2 separate regions of the Homo sapiens genome follow, and region 2 is linked to region 1. Evidence: fine-mapped expression QTL. Tissue or cell type: whole blood. Region 1 holds a variant in brackets; the other region holds the start of a gene. All regions are shown on one strand. Distances are between the middles of the regions.

Region 1 (8,102 bases):
CCAAGGCCTAGCCCGCCAGAGAGACCTGGGAGGGCCCGTGTGTCCTGAGCTTTGGGGGCCGACAGTGTGGGGCAGCTCTCCTTGTTGGGGTGGGGTGGGGTGGCTGCTGGCTGCTGCCAGGCCTGGCTGGTGGGAGGCAATCAGGAGGGCCCAGGTGCACAGCTTCAGCTGTCCCTGCCCAGGGCTCCTCGCACGGGACCTTGGTGGCTTCTCTGTCATAGAACCCAGTACAGTGGTGCCCAAAATTTGACCGAAAACAGTCCTAAAACTGTTTTCCTACTTTGAGAAAGCACCACTGATTCCAGCCGCTGCCTTGACCTCTGGTCTAATTCCTTCTACCTGACATGAGGGAATGTTAGACAGGGCTTCGTAGTAAGCCTGCTAATAGGAAGGACCGTGCCCTGCTGTCTGCAGGGGCCTGGATTAGTGGTGGGCAGCAGCAGGAGTTGACATAAAGCGCTGTAAGAAACTCCCTCGCCCTCCGTCTTCCTAGGAAGGAAGTGGTTAAGGGCCTGGGCTCTGGAGCGGGCAGCAAGCATGTGCACTGCAGGCTGAGCTTTTCCAGTCCTGGCTTGCACACAGGTGCCTTTGCAGGCAGGTGACATCCTTGCTGTGTGCCTCGGTTTCCCCAGGCTTAGTAAAAATCTTCATGAGACAGGAGGGTTAAGTAAACCAACCCATGTGAAGCACAAGAGGGTGCCGGCACTTGCTCCCTGTTACCAGCCCTGGCCTGGAATGATGACGCCTGCAGATCTTTGGCCTCCTCCCCACATATAAAGGGCAGAGGAAGCTGTTCTGTGACCTTTTGCTCAGAATCTTTGTGAACGGACACGTGTGCAGGGGAAACGTGGGGCAGGGTGGGGGTGACAACAACATGGGCCCCGTCACACCCCACACTGCTGGCCAACGTGGAGGAGGAGGCAGCCCCCAGGACGCACCTGTGGGTGGCGCTTGCATGGGTAGCACAGGGTCAGACCGCGGAGGCCTGGGGAGCGCACGCTCAGACAGCGGAGGCCTGGGGAGCGCACGCTCAGACTGCAGAGGCTTTGCAGTTTTATGGTTTTTATGTTCTGAGTTGGGGCTTTGATACCAACACAATGAATTTCCCGATGTTTCACTAGTACTAAACTGGAGTATAAACACTTGCTTCCCTGGCCTCTATTCATTGCTTTCAAAGGAACATGGGACTGAGAAGGAGAACCTGCTCCAGGGGTCTTGGTTCTCTTTGGTTCATAACTCGTGAAAATGTCTGGAGCCCATGTGCGGCTGTGGAGACCATGGCCATAGCAGGGTGTGGACAGGGGCGACAGGACCCCGTCAGGCTAGCTGTCAGGAGCATTTCAAGTGAGACGTTGGCATCTTTCTTCCTATGTCTTATTTAAAAAGAGCCCAAAGTGCTATCAAACAGTCTGTTAATAATGAATGTCTGTGAGCAGTGAGGTGAACTTGGCTGAAACCCGGGGCTAACTTTGATAGGGTTTCCCAATAGAAATGGACTGCCCCAGGCCTGTTCAGAAGCAGCAGGCCTGGAGACAGAGGGGGCCTGAGTGTGGGGATGGTGACCACCCCTCTCAACCTGAGAGGCACCCGGGTCCCTGTATGTGTGTGTGAGAGAGAGAGAGCATCATAGCGCCTGCACTGCACAGAGCTGGCAGAAACAGAAACCAGCAGAGGAATCCTCTGCTCCAAGGTGGCTGAATTAGTTTCACAAAAGCCATCGCTTTTGATGTTGCTGTCCCTGTTAGTCGGGAAGTTCTTTCCTCTGTTGCTTAGGGCCCTGTCAGAGCTGGGGCCGGCAAGTCCCACGCCCGGTGATCCCCACGAAGTTTCCGGGTGCTCTCTTTCACACTGTCTTTTGCGGATGTTGATCCCTTGCCTAGAACACCCTTTCTCGCTTCCCCTCGTTCTCTCAGCAAACACTGGCTCGTCCTTGACATTTTATTTTGGGCATCAGTACCCCCGGGAACCCACCCCTGACCACTGTCTCCACACCCCTCCGCCAGTCTTTGCTGGGTTAAGCCTGTCCGCACATCCATCTCTTTCCCACCTACTTGGAGCTCTTTGCAGGCAGGGGAAGTTTTTATGTGTGCTGCAGCAGCCTGGCTGACTGTTGGATGAAAACCGTAGAAGGGGATGTATTCAGTGACGTAAAAGGCTTTTCCCCAAGGCGAGTGATCCACCAAGGCGAGTGATCCAATTTCCCCACTGAGTAGAAAGGAGAGCAGGCAGGATGGGGACTCAGCGCTTCTTATTGTCCCCGGACAGTTGTTGAAGCTTTAGAGCCTTAGATTTGAGTGGAAAGAGAACTGCGAGGCCCCAGGCACTGCATCCTCAGGATGGCAGGAAAGGAGTGGAAAGGCCACGGCCAGCTCCTGGCCGAACCTGCCATGCACCATGAGACGCTCAACCTTGGGTGAATATTCTAGAACAATCAAAATGCTTTCAAAATGACTCTGGAATGTTTATTTTCTTTTGTAGTAATGAACCCAGGCTTTAGCAACAATTAACATCCAGCTCCTAGGAGCCAGATGCTTAGGAAAGGCTGCTGTTTTCACAGGGTTTCCACGTGGAGAGCTTACGCACACTGATTCCTATCTGTGCCTTCCTGGGCTGTGATAAGAAATGGTTCATTACATAGGTGGATGGTTTTGATTTTTGTAGCCTTTTGCTTTTTACAATTCCAAACTGCAGAGTAGTGAGAGTGAATCAGGTGACTTGGCTTAGACTATAAACAAAGAGAATGCCTCTCTTTTTCCATGGATAATAGCGAGCATGTTTGCGGCTCCAGGACGGGCTCTGGGGGCCTGAGACCAAGCACCTTGCTGGGCCAGTGAGCGGGCTGGGCACCTGTGCCTGCAGCTATGGGCGCCAGTTCCCTGGAGGAAGGTGGAACAGCATTCTTTTGTTTACTTGGCTTTTTGTTCCCTAACTGGGTGTGAGGCTAATTCCCTCTCCAGGTACATCAGACCAGGGAAAAACAAAAACAAACAAAAAAGACTTCCTCAGAAATTCAAAGACATGGCCAAGAACAGAGAGTCTCTACTGCAGACTCTGGGCAGGCTTGGCACCTGCCGGGGCTCCTCAGTCGAGCCCCGGTTTACTAGGCGTGGCCTTAACCTGCAGGGAAGTGCTCTGAGCCGCAGATCTTATCACCACCTTGGTTGTTTCCCAGGGAGGAGCCAGCAGGTTATTTCTCCTCATCACACTAGCTGTGGTAGCGACAGTGGTCTGCAAGGCTTGCTTTGGTTCCAATTAAAATGGGGAAAGTCCTTGGCCTTTGCAGGAAGGGACCTGGGTGTGGCTCTGTGGGGATGAACAGACACCTGCCCCACCTCCACCTTGTCCCTCTGCTGCTCAAGGGGGTATTTTGTTTGCACACGGAGGCTCCTGGGTAGACAGCACGCTCCTAAGAAACTGACTTCTGGTCCCGGGCAGCATCTCATTTTGGGATCT[C/G]AAATTGGAGCGAAACGTTATTCTACTCTCCAGACTGGGTTCCCTGTCCTCTTGGCTACCTGGATGGTGTCTTGGGGTCCTGAGCCTTTGAGACCCCTGGACAGATGTGGGCTAACTGGACAGCCTAATGCTGGTCAGTTGGGCAGGTGGGTTAGTGAAAGCCCTGGAGAGCAGAGGAGCTGGCAGGCAGGAGGGAATGGCTGGGAAACACTGTTGACAGAAAACAGCACCGTGGGATCGTCGTGTGCATGACACGGTCGGCCGGGTTCTCTGGGTGATAATTTCCTTCTGCAAAGGCAAGACCTCGCTGTGGTTGGGTCATTAAAGGCCAGGCGGCAGTTATTTTTTCAGGATTCCAGGTGACATCCTAGGGGCTGTGAGAGCTGCAGCTCCCTGAGGAGCCCCTTCTTCTCCCTGCCCCAGTGAGCAGCATGTCCCTCTTCCGACTGTAAATTACACGAGCATATTTCCCCATGCAGCGATCTGTGCAGTATGCCATTGATTCATTGTATGATAGACATAATCAGCCTTTACATCCTAACCTAAGACCCACATGAGGTGCGCGCCCTTTGCCCTTCTCTCTTCATCAGCCTACTGGGGCTTATGAGTTGCAGGGACTCCAAGTCAACTTTCACATTTACATTCTGCCCTAAATCTGTGTTCCTCTGTCCTCCATCCTCAGGATATGTCCATGCTGGCTAGAGAGGCAGGATGACACGTGGACGCCAGCACGGATGTGTGTGGCGTCGGGCAGTGAGCTGCTCTGGCCCCGACCTCTTCTCTGTGAAAAGGCACAACAGTATTCAATACATATAAACTATGTTCTTAAGTCACTTGTCTTCAGAGGCCTTCTTCATTGAGGAAGACAACAGGGGTTCTGGTTGGGGAGCCAGGCCTTACAGTAGTTCTTGAAGGAGCTGCACAGCAGGTCATGGGTACTGTGAGTGTGCACTTCGTCTAATTATTAACAGTGCCTCCGTTCACTCTCAACGGTGCCCCAGTTAGGACGGTAGACTATCTCATCACCACTATGCGTGAGGAGCCTGGGAACATGGTCAGAACCATTTTACTCATACAAGTTTGCAGAGGCCTTTAAAGCAAGCCTCTTGGCCCTCTGTTATTGAATGCTGGCCTCTGCTAGGTGCTGCAGGTAGCAAAAGATAAAAGATGTCGTGCTGTTCCGTGTGGACAGGAGCTGGCTATTTAAAGTGGAATGGAGGACTCAAGTACATCTTCATGGGCAGGGAAGAGATCAAAGGCTGTGGACGACGAATACAGAATTATCCTCTGGTCCACCACGTAGCATGCATGCAGAGATAAGCCACTGTGACCAGTCACATCAAGATTCATAGACTTATGCCTAATTTAGAGAACTGACTTGCCAGGTTTGTAATACTAACTTAATAGTGGGTTTTCTGCTGCTGGTAGTGGTGGTTTGGCGGCTGGAGAGCACTGCCTTCCAGTGAAGCTTTGAAAGAGCCGTCCCATGCCCTGCCAACTGTCCAAGACAACTGACAGCAGATCCGACACCTCCATGTAGACACAGATCCAAAACTCACTTTAAAATACTAATCACAGAAGGGGCCGAAAGCAGTCACCATAGTGGCCCAGGAGAGCAGGATCAGTGGTGCCCTGTCGGACATGGGAGAGCCGGTGGCGGCGCTGTGCCGCCTACGCCAGCAGCAGATTCAGCTGCCATCACCAGGTTAATGACCGAAAGCCCGCCCCCGGGGCTCAGCTCGGAGCGCGGCCGGAGGACAGCGGTCCCCTCCTGGCAAGGGCACGGAGCCCCGCAGTGGGCAGCGGCCAGAGGACCCGGGTCCCAGTAAGCGCAGCGCCCGCCGTGGGAGCCACAGCAGCTTGGGGCTGGCTCCCTCCCCAGGCGGAGACTGGGGTGTGCCCCACCGACCCGACCCAGGCTCCCGGGCCCCACTCACCGGCTTGCTGGGCGGCGGCCGGCGCAGTCGCCGCCGGGCGGGCAGCTCGGGCTGGCGGAGGCGGCGGGGCTCACGGCGCGCACGCCGCCCGGGCCCTGTGTACACACGTGACCGTCGGCCCCGCCCCCGGCCGGCGAGCGGCAGCCATGCCTGGCCCCGCCCCCAGCCTTGGTCCCGCCCTGGCCTCCGCCCCCCGGCCCCGCCCTCGCGGCTAGACCGCGGGGAACCGCTCGGACCAGTGAGGTTGGGGGGCGGTGGCGGTGGAGGCAGTGCTGGTTGTGTAACCTGAGACCAGCCATTTGACGAACTCGTGCGAGATTCCCTGTGGGAGGACACACACCCAGGGCTCTGGGAGTTTTTGAGAATTCTCTTAGTGCCCAGCGCGGTTTCTTTTTACAGGCGCTGGTGCCTATTTTGCTGAGTCAGAATATACCCTAATCTGCAGGGTGCAGGCCCCACCGCCCTCCAAAGGAAATGAGTGGCTGCAAGTTAGTCCTTCCAGGTACACCTGCCCCTCTTTCTTCACCGAAGTTTGCTTGCTGTTTCCAAAGTCACCAATTACTTCCTGGTTTTAGGATTTTCTTTGTAAACGGAACACTCACAGGAAAGCCGTTTAAAGAAACACATTGCTGCCTGATTACTTTTGTAGCTATTGTTACAAGTTAAACATTGGAAAAGTTGAAACAAGGACATTTACTTTGCTGTAATTTTTGAGGTGAAACAGTCCCCCCTGCAGCACATTCTGGTTCAGGATCTAAGAACATTTCTGAAAATCAAAGCATGTGGGTTGCACAGTTCCGCATAGACTTGCTGTGAGCTGCGGGCCGAGTGGAACACCAGCAGGAAGAATAGCGGCCACTGGCCCTCCGCTGCATGATGCTGTGGCCTACTGTGTTCAGGGATGTACCTCAGCCACCTTCCTGGACAGGACGGCTTCCTGACCGTGGGTCGGAGTGGGACGTCGGGATCAGCTTTCTATTCCAGCGGGAGGGCAGGGAGAGGCTCACCACGGCCCACGCCTGCTGATGTGATACTGACTTGCTGCCCAGCCCGGCACCAGGTCCCTGGCACAGTGGATGCAGCCCGGGCCCTGTGTGCCCAGAGGTGCCGGGTACTGATCTTACTTGCCAAAGTCAGTCACAAGCAGCCAACACCGATACCTGAGGGCGTATTCTGTGTCAGGTTCTGTTCTGAGCCTCAACCATTGTTTTGAGGTAGATACGTCCGTATTTCATCAAACCTAAGACACGATTGATTAGTGTTAGCTATGCCATTACTTTATGGATTACTAAAAAGAAGGCCCTCTGCCCACTGCATTCCGACATACTGCTGATTTTAAGGCGCAGCCTCACATTAGAGATGATAAAGTGAGAGTACGCCTTAGCGTCAATGAGATAGGTCACCATGTGCATTTTAATATTTTTTTTTTTTAAAGACAGAGTTTCTGTCATGTTGCCCAGGCTGGAGTGCAATGACACGATCTTGGCTTACTGCAGCCTCAGCCTCCTGAGTAGCTGGGATTACAGGTGCGTGCCACCATGCCCAGCTAATTTTTTTTTTTTTTTTTGTAGTAGAGATGGGGTTTCACCATGTTGGTCCGGCTGGTCTCGAACTCCTGACCTCAAGTGATCCGCCTGCCTGGGCTTCCCAAAGTGCTGGGATTACAGGTGTGAGCCACTGTGCCCGGCCATGCATTTTAAATTTAATTGTGAAAACTTAAGCAACTTAGCCCAGGTCACACTGCAGGCCGTGGAGCCAGGATTTGAACCCAGGGGTATTCTGGCTTTTTAGATCAGGGTTTGGGACTTTGGGCCCTCCTAGCAGCCCGCCTAAGAGTAAGCTTCGTTATCTCCATGGTATAAATGGCCCAAGACCTCAGAATCCCTGGTCAGAGTATGCACCGTGCTGTCTGGTCCCTGTAATGCCAGGCTCTGTGGGTCCTACCCACAGGGGTGCTCTGTGGCTGGGGAATGCTAGAGGTTAGCTTCCTCTGAGCCACTGAGCTTTCAGGTCACTGCAGACCGCCTTATCTGCAGAGACTTCCTGTGCCAAGCAGGCCAGTCCTGCCAGGGAGAATGGCAGAAAGCTCGTGTGTGTCCTGGGGAGATCGTCAGAGGGAACCACCCTCCACCTGAACCACAATAAGTACTCGTAGCTGGAGGTGTAAACACTCTCCAGAGGCTGCAGCTGCGTATCCAAGGGTCCTGGCCAGCCCCTGTACAAGACTCAGTTGGTGGGGGGAAGGGTGGGCACAGATTGGGGCGTAGGGGGGCGTGTGGCCCTGACTCAGCTTCGCGGTTGCACCCTAGTCTAGTGTTGATGGTTGAAGTCACGTGGACGTGGCCTCCCCTGTGTGGCTGCTGAGGGTGTTTGAGGGCAGTTGTGTGCTCCTGGCCTGGGGTCATGTGTTTGTGGCTGTGTGCCGTGGCTGCTGAGGGCATTTGAGGGCAGTTGTGCGCTCCTGGCCTGGGGCCGTGCCTCTGTGGTTGTGTGCCGTGTGTGTTGCGGGTGGGGGGTGCCCTAGTTGTGCACCTGATTCTGCAGCCCCGCACACTGCCGAGGCTCCTGTGTGCCGTGTGTGTTGCGGGTGGGGGATGCCCTAGTTGTGCACCTGATTCTGCAGCCCCGCGCACTGCCGAGGCTGCTGTGATGCAGCCGCGTGTCTCACGGAGATGTTGGGGCCGCCCTTCCCCTTCCCCTGCCGCATTCAGG
Region 2 (8,102 bases), 91 kb before region 1:
GATCAAAAACCTTCATTCACACAAACAATAATCAGAAGATGTAATGGAAGAGGAAAACTCCATTTACAATGGTAATAAAGATAAAACACATAGGAATAAACTTAGGACATACGTAAGACCTATATTGGATAAAACTTTAAAACATGATTCATGAAGTATTATTTTGGGAAGAAAAGAGAAAAATGTGTGTTTCATGAAAGGTACAATAGTAGATGCAAATCAATGGAAAGACAGTCCTTGTTCTTGGAAGACTCAACAACCAAGAAAGACGGGTGCCAGACATGACGTGAGAGTATGTGAGGATGACCCTAGATAGCCTGACAAGGGTATCGCCTGAGAATGTGTGAAGATGACCCCAGAGAGCCTTACAAGGCTATCTTGTAAAGGATGTTCAGATTTACCTATTCAAGGCCCATCTTGAGCTCTCCCTGCCACAGCCCTGGGATCAGCCATTTCTCCCAGGAGCCCTGGTCCGTATTCATGGGGGATGGTATTTAGGAGCAGTGTTCTGGGTGCCAGGAGTGCTCAGTGCCACTGGGATGTCATTGCATCCAAGTCCTTTCAGCATTTCTGTATTAGTCAGTATTCACACTGCTATTCAGACATACCTGAGACTGGTAATTTATAAATAAAAAGAAGTTGAATGGACTCACAGTTCCACATGGCTGGGGAGGCCTCTCAGTCTTGGCGGAAGGCAAAAGGCACATCTTACATGGCAACAGATGAGAGAAAATGAGAACCAAGCAAAAGGGGTTTCCCCTTATCAAACCATCAGATCTCATGAGACTTACTCACTACCAAGAGAACAGTATGGGGGAAACTGCCCCCATGATTCAATTATGTCCCACCAGGTCCCTCCCACAATGCATGGGAATTATGGGAGATACAATTCAAGATGAGATTTGGGTGGGGACACAGCCAAACCATATCAATTTCCAAAAATAAAAATGAAAAAAAATTATTTTCCTTTTTTCCTTTTTTTTTTTCACCCAGGCTGGAGTGCAGTGGTGTGATCATAGTTCACTGCAGCCTCCATCTTCCAGGCTCAAGCAATCCTTCCACCTCAGCCTCCTAAGTAGCTGGGACTATATGCGTGCACCACCACACCCAGCTAATTTTCTATTTTTATTTTTGTAGACATGAGGTCTTACTGTTTGCCCAGGCTGGTCTTGAACTCCTGGTGTCCATCCATCCTCCTGACTCAGCCTCCCAAAGAGCTGGGATTACAGGCCTGAGTCACTGCACCTGGCCATGATTCACTTTTTTTTTTTTTTTTTTTTTGAGCTGGAGTCTTGCTCTGTCGCCCAGGCTGGAGTGCAGTGGCGCGGTCTCAGCTCATTGCAACCTCTGCCTCCCGGGTTCAATAGGTTCTGATGCCTCAGCCTCCTGAGTAGCTGGGATTATAGGTACATGCCACCATGCCTGGCTAATTTTTGTATTTTTAGTAGAGATGGAGTTTTGCCACGTTGGCCAGGCTGGTGTTGAACTCCTGACTTCAAGTGATCCATCCACCTCAGCCTCCCAAAGTGCTGGGATTACAGGTGTGAGCCACCGCACCCGGCCGACTTCTAATGAACAGAATATGGCAAAAGCCTAGGGAAGTCACTTCTGAGATTAGGGTGCAAGGAGACTGTGATGTGCGTCTTGTGTGTGCCTCCTCTTGTGTGTGCTTGCACCGTCTAAGGCAAGCCAGCTGCAGTGTTGTGAGCTTCCTTGTGGTAAGGCCCATGTACCAAGGAACTGAGGGTGGCCTTTGGGCAGCAGCCAGCAAGGCTGAGGCCCTTCTCTAATGACCTTGGAGGACTGAGTCCTTACAATATCCGTGTGTGTGAGCTTGGGAGTGGATCATTCCAGATAAGCTTTCCGATGAAACCACAACCCTGGGGGGACACCTTGACCACAACTTGGTGAACCCTTGAGGCAAAGGCACAGAGCTTAGCCACGCCCACTTTCCTGACCGCGGATACCATGAAAAAATAAATGTTCTTTTAGGCTGCTAAATGTTGGGTTAATTTGTTATGCAGAAAAAGGAACCAAATACAATCTTCTACCAGTAAGGAAGAGTGCACCTTCTTTGCTTGTCACCTTTGGATTCCTGAGGCAACGTACATCATACTTGATACGGCTGCCAAGCACTTAACTTACTGGGTGACTTGAAAGCATGCTTTTTTTTCTTTTTTTTTTTTAGACGGGGTCTGGCTCTGTTGCCCAGGCTGGAGTGCAGTGCCTTGATCATAGCTCACTGCAGCCTCCATCTCCCAGGCTCCAGCGATCCTCCCACCTCAGCGTCCAGAGTATCAGGAACTACAGGCACGTGCCACCATACCCGGCTAATTTTTATTTTTTTAATTTATTTTTTATTTTTTAAAACAGAGTCTCATTCTGTCGCCCAGGCTGGAGTGCAGTGGCACGATCTCGGCTCACTGCAACCTCCACCTCCCGGGCTTAAACGATTTTCCTGCCTCAGCCTCCCGAGTAGCTGGGATTACAGGCACCTGCCACCACGCCTGGCTAATTTTTGTATTTTTAGCAGAGACGGGGTTACGGGGTTTCGTCATGTTGGCCAGGCGGGTCTCGAACTCCTGAGCTCAAGCGATCCGCCCGCCTGGGCCTCCCAAAATGCTGGGATCACAGGCGTGAGTCACCGCTCCCGGACACAAGCATTATTATAACACTACCCACCCTGTGTATTTTTTAGCACCTATCCTGATTTTTTAAATTCAGCACGAAGTTTAAGTCCTAGCCCTGTTGATCCCAATAGCCGTAGCTCATCCATTTCGACTCCGAGCCGAGCTCCATACCCTGGACCCTCGGCGGAGGCCCCACCCCGGGACGCCAGCCCGGCCGGGGCAGCTTGCACCCCAGACCCCCAAGCCCTGCGGGGCCCAAACCTAGTCATCTGCACTTGTTCTGGGCAGGGCGGGTTGCCTTGGCAACCAGCTCCTCTCCAAGCAACTCTAGGCCTCTAGAGATGGCGTCAGTAGCCCGCGCCCGGTCCTGGAACCGCCCCCCGTGCTGCCGCCGCTTGCCATTAGCCGGCGGAGAGACGGACGCAGACCTCGTCCAATGGGAGGCTCCGCACTCCTGAAGGCGGGACTAACGCTTACCTGGGGCGCGGGTCCCTGCCGGAAGGCGGCGTCCGCGACGCAGCTGTTCACGCTTAGGTGGGCGACGTGGGCGCAGGTGGGCGCAGGTAGGCGCGTGGGGCGGCGGCGGGGTGGCCGGCGGGTCAGGGCGCCAGGAGACCCAGAGCCCCGGGGCGGGCTCCCGCGGGGCTCCGCCCCCTCCACGTGGGTGCGCGGAGGCCCGGCGCGGCGCGACCGGGCGGCGGCCCTGGGGTCCGCGGTGCTGGGGAGGCTGGTGCGGCCGGTGCGGCCGGTGCGTCCCGGCGCGGGCTCCGACACCCGCACCCGCCTCTGGGTTAACTCAGCGCGGGCGAGTGGAAGGGACTCAGCTGGCTCCTAGGTTTCAGGCCGTCAGGGCTTGCAGTGGCTCTGGTTTCATTGTCTTTCTCTGAAGACGCCCTGATTGCCCTCCGAGGCTTTCAGCTCCCACTTTCTCTTTTTCAATTTTTGAGGCAGTGTCTCGCTGTGCCACCCAGGCTGGAGTGCAATGGCGTGATCATAGCTCACTGCAGCCTCCACCTCCTGGGCTCAAGCCGTCCTCCCGCCTCATCCTCCCAAGTAGCTGGGACCACATGCGCGCGCCACCACACCCGGATAATTTTTAAAAATGTTTTTTGTAGAAATGGGGTCTCACCATGTTACCCAGGCTGGTCTCGAATTCTTGGGCTCAAGCGATGGATCCTCCTGCCTCGGCCTCCCAAAGTGCTGGGATTACAGGAGTGAGCCAACGCGCTTGGCCTCACTTTCCATCATAAGCATGCTTTCCGTTTCCTTCCTTCCGTCATTCATTCATTCATTTTTAAAAAACGTTCATTGGGTTCCTCCTGCACTGTTCGGGGCATTGGGCTACAGCTGTCAACAAGTGGAGACAAGTCTGTGATCTAGTGAACTTCCATTCTGGAGGGGAGAGACAGATGAACAAGGTGCACAGAGCAGGTGATGGTAAGTGCCATGGAGAAGATGAGAACAGGGGTTTTGAGAATGGAAAGGAAGCAGGAGGAGGAGTGAGGCACCAGAACATTCCAGGTCGAGGAAACAGCAGGTGCAGGGGAAACAGCAGGGAGCCCAGTGTGGCTGCAGCCAATTTGGGAACAGAGAGAGAAAGAGGAGGTGAGTTCCCAGAGATGCGAGGAGGGGCCAGGGCAGTCGTGTGGACCTTACCAAGTGGCAAGGACCTTGACTTTCCCTCCAAGTGGAAGGGGACAGCTTGGGAAGTTTTTTGAGTGGAGGTGACACACCATCTGATTTAGGAGTTTAAAAGCCATCGTGAGAGGTGGTGGCTTGGACTGGGTACCTATGGGATCTTAAGGGAGTCACATTCTGGGTGTATTTCAGTGGTAAACCAACAGGAGTTTGTGGTGGGTTGGACGAGTATGTGAGAAAGAGAGGATTTATGGATGGACCAAGGTTTTAAGCTTGAGCTACTATGTGAACCTCATCAGATGGATGTTTATGGAGAGGATGAACACTAGGAAGCTCAGGTTTGTGGAGGGTGATCAGGGGTATTGATTACGAATTCTTAAGCTTGAGATGATATATGTGTAGATGATATATATAAGTACATATATATGGTTATATATATAGTTATATATATACACAGTTTATACACACATCCGCATATATATATTTATTTTTATATATTTATATATATTTATATATGTTTATATATGTTTATATATGTTTATGTTTATATGTTTATATATGTTTATATATGTTCATATATATGTTTATATATATTTATATATGTTTATATATATTTATATGTTTATATATGTTTATATATTTATATATGTTTATATATGTTTATATATATTTATATATATGTTTATATATATTTATATATATGTTTATATATATTTATATATATGTTTATATATTTATATATATTTATATATATGTTTATATATATTTATATGTTTATATATTTATATATTTATGTTTATATATATTTATATATGTTTATATATATTTATATATATTTTATATATTTATATATGTTTATATATATTTATATATATTTTATATATTTATATATGTTTATATATATTTATATATTTGTGTATATATTTATAATTATGTATATTTATACATATTTATGTATATATATTTATATATTTATGTATATATTTATATATATTTATGTATATATATTTATATACACATTTATATAAATTTATATATACTTATATTTATATATATTTATATATACTTATATATTTATACATATATTTATATATACATATATATTTTATATATATATTTATATATGCTTATATATTTATATATACTTATATATATTTATATATATTTATATATACTTATATATTTATATATACTTATATATATTTTTATATATACTTATATATTTATATATTCATATATATTTTTATATATTTATATAAATACATATTTATGTAAATATATTTATATATTTATTTTATATAAATAAATAAATAAATTGTGTATATATATATATATATATATTTCTTTTTGAGGTGGAGTCTCACTCTGTTGTCCAGGCTGGAGTGCAGTGGCGCGATCTCGGCTCACTGCAACCTCCACCTCGTATTCAAACGATTCTCCTGCCTCAGCCTCCCGAGTAGCTGGGTTTACAGGCAGGTGCCAGCACACCCAGCTAATTTTTGTGTTTTCAGTAAAGATGGGGTTTCACCATGTTAGCCAGGCTGGTCTCAAACTCCTGACCTCAAGTGATCTCCCCGCCTCGGCCTCCCAAAGTGCTGGGATTACAGGCGTGAGCCACCGTGCCCGGCCATACACATACATATATATACACACATGTAGATATATGTGTATAAACAGTGTAAACAGAGGTCAGGAGTTCAAGTATATATATGTGTATATATGTCTAGGTACACATATATGACCATGTATATATATATAACTATATGTATATACATACAACTATAGCTATATATATACACAGTTGAGTTGGCGTGTAGTTGAAGGAGAGGGTTAATAAGAGACTGTAAAGAGAGGAAACAAAGTCATCAGCGTCTAGTTGGTATTTGAAGCCACATGACTGAATGGGATCACGAGGGAGTGAGGAGGCTGAGCACTAAGCCTGGGTCCTTCAGTGTTCAAGGACACGGCGATTAAGAGGTGGGAGCAAAAGCAGAAGTTCTGCTGTCTGTGCTGGATGCCAAGTGAAAAATGCCTGTCAAGAGAGAAGGAAGGATCAACAGTCCAACGCTGTTAGGTCAAATAAGTTGCATACTGAGAGTTGGCAATGGGATTTAGCCACGTGGGTGTCATTGTGGTAGGGTGTTTGGGGCAAAAGCCTGATGGGATGGGGGAAGGAAAGGAGTCAGAGACAGGGCAGGTAGATGACTCTTTATGTATTTATTTATTTATTTATTTTTGAGAAGGAGTCTCACTCTGTAGCCCAGGCTGGAGTGCAGTGGTGCGATCTCGGCTCACTGCAAGCTCCGCCTCCCAGGTTCACATCATTCTCCTGCCTCAGCCTCCCGAGTAGCTGAGTAGCTGGGACTACAGGCACCCGCCACTATGCCCAGCTAATTTTTTGTATTTTTTAGTAGAGACGGGGTTTCACCATGTTAGCCAGGATGGTCTCGATCTCCTGACCTTGTGATCTGCCTGTCTCGGCCTCCCAAAGTGCTGGGATTATAGGCGTGAGCCACCGCACCCGGCCTATTTATTTATTTATTTAGAGACACAGTGTCACTCTGTTACCCATGCTGGAGTGCAGTGGCGCGATCTCGGCTCACTGTAATCTCCATAGTTTCAAGTGATTCTCCTGCCTCAGCCTCCCGAGTAGCTGGGACTACAGGCACACGCCACCACACCTGGCTAATTTTTGTATTTTTAGTAGAGATGGGGTTTCACCATATTGGCCAGCCTAGTCTCGAACTCCTGACTTCAGGTGATCTGCCCACCTCGGCCTCCCAAAGTGCTGGTATTACAGGTGTGAGCCACTGCGCTCAGCCTTGCCCCCCACCCTTTTAAGAGACAGTCTCTCACTCTGTCGCCGAGGCTGGAGTATCATGGCGTGATCGTGATTCACTGCACCCTTGAACTCCTAGGCTCAAGTGATTCTCCTGCCTCAACCTCCCAAGTAGCTGGGACTACAGGCACGCACCACCATGCCCAGCGAATTAAAAAAATATATATATATATTTTGGGGCCAGGTGTGGTGGCTCACGCCTGCAATCCCAGCAGTCCAAGGTGGGAGGATCACTTGAGCTCAGGAGTTTGAGACCAGTCTGGGAAACATGGCGAAACCCCATTCCCACAAAAAATACAAGAGTTAGCTACGTGGTGGTGTACACCTGTAGTGCCAGCTACTCCGGAGGCTGAGTTGGGAGGATTGCTTGAGCCTGGGTGGTCGAGGCTGCAGTGAGCTGTGATTATGCCACTGTGTTCCAGCCTAAATTTTGTCTCACAACAAACATTATAGCAAATGATCTTTCTCCCATTTATTTATTTATTTATCGTAAAGTAGCACCTGGGTGTTTTTTTTTTTTTTTGAGATGGAGTCTCATTCTCGCCCAGGCTGGAGTGCAGTGGCTTGATCTCGGCTCACTGCAATCTCCGCCTCCCGTGTTCGCGCCATTCTCCTGCCTCAGCCTCCCGAGTAGTTGGGACTACAGGCGCCTGCCACCACGCCCGGCTAATTTTTTTTTTGTATTTTTAGTAGAGACAGGGTTTCACTGTGTTAGCCAGGGTGGTCTTGATCTCCTGACCTCGTGATCCATCTGCCTCAGCCTCCCAAAGTGCTGGGATTACAGGCGTGAGCCACCGTGCCTGGCCGCACTTGGGTGTTACATTTTTAAATTTATGGTAAATAATTTGAGAGGGATTATAGTTTTTTTTTTTTTTTTTTTTTGCAGTATATCGAGGGATTGTGAAACCATCACCACAATCTAATTTTAAGACTTTTTCCTTCTGCCACAAGAAACCCTGTGCCCCTTAGTGGTCACCCACTCTTCCCTCCACTTG

The links. PIP is the estimated chance that this variant, and not a neighbour inherited with it, causes the effect.
Region 2: CHLSN starts here. The variant in region 1 is fine-mapped to the expression of CHLSN in whole blood (TOPMed, PIP above 0.99).

Annotation. Positions count from the first base shown.
Region 1 is chr7:1,041,947-1,050,048 of GRCh38, reverse strand. All of the region lies in intron 2 of CHLSN (cholesin), which reads left to right. It overlaps GPR146 (G protein-coupled receptor 146), which reads right to left and starts at 5,503. Exons shown (of 2, transcript NM_001303473.2): 1 at 5,391-5,503. RefSeq lists silencers at 5,004-5,053, 5,234-5,723 and enhancers at 5,829-6,384, 7,873-8,102. The variant C/G (reference allele first, on the strand shown) is at 3,454.
Region 2 is chr7:1,133,280-1,141,381 of GRCh38, reverse strand. CHLSN (cholesin) reads left to right here and starts at 3,135. Exons shown (of 5, transcript NM_001318252.2): 1 at 3,135-4,067. RefSeq lists silencers at 2,726-2,865, 3,066-3,515, 3,526-3,575 and an enhancer at 2,906-3,005.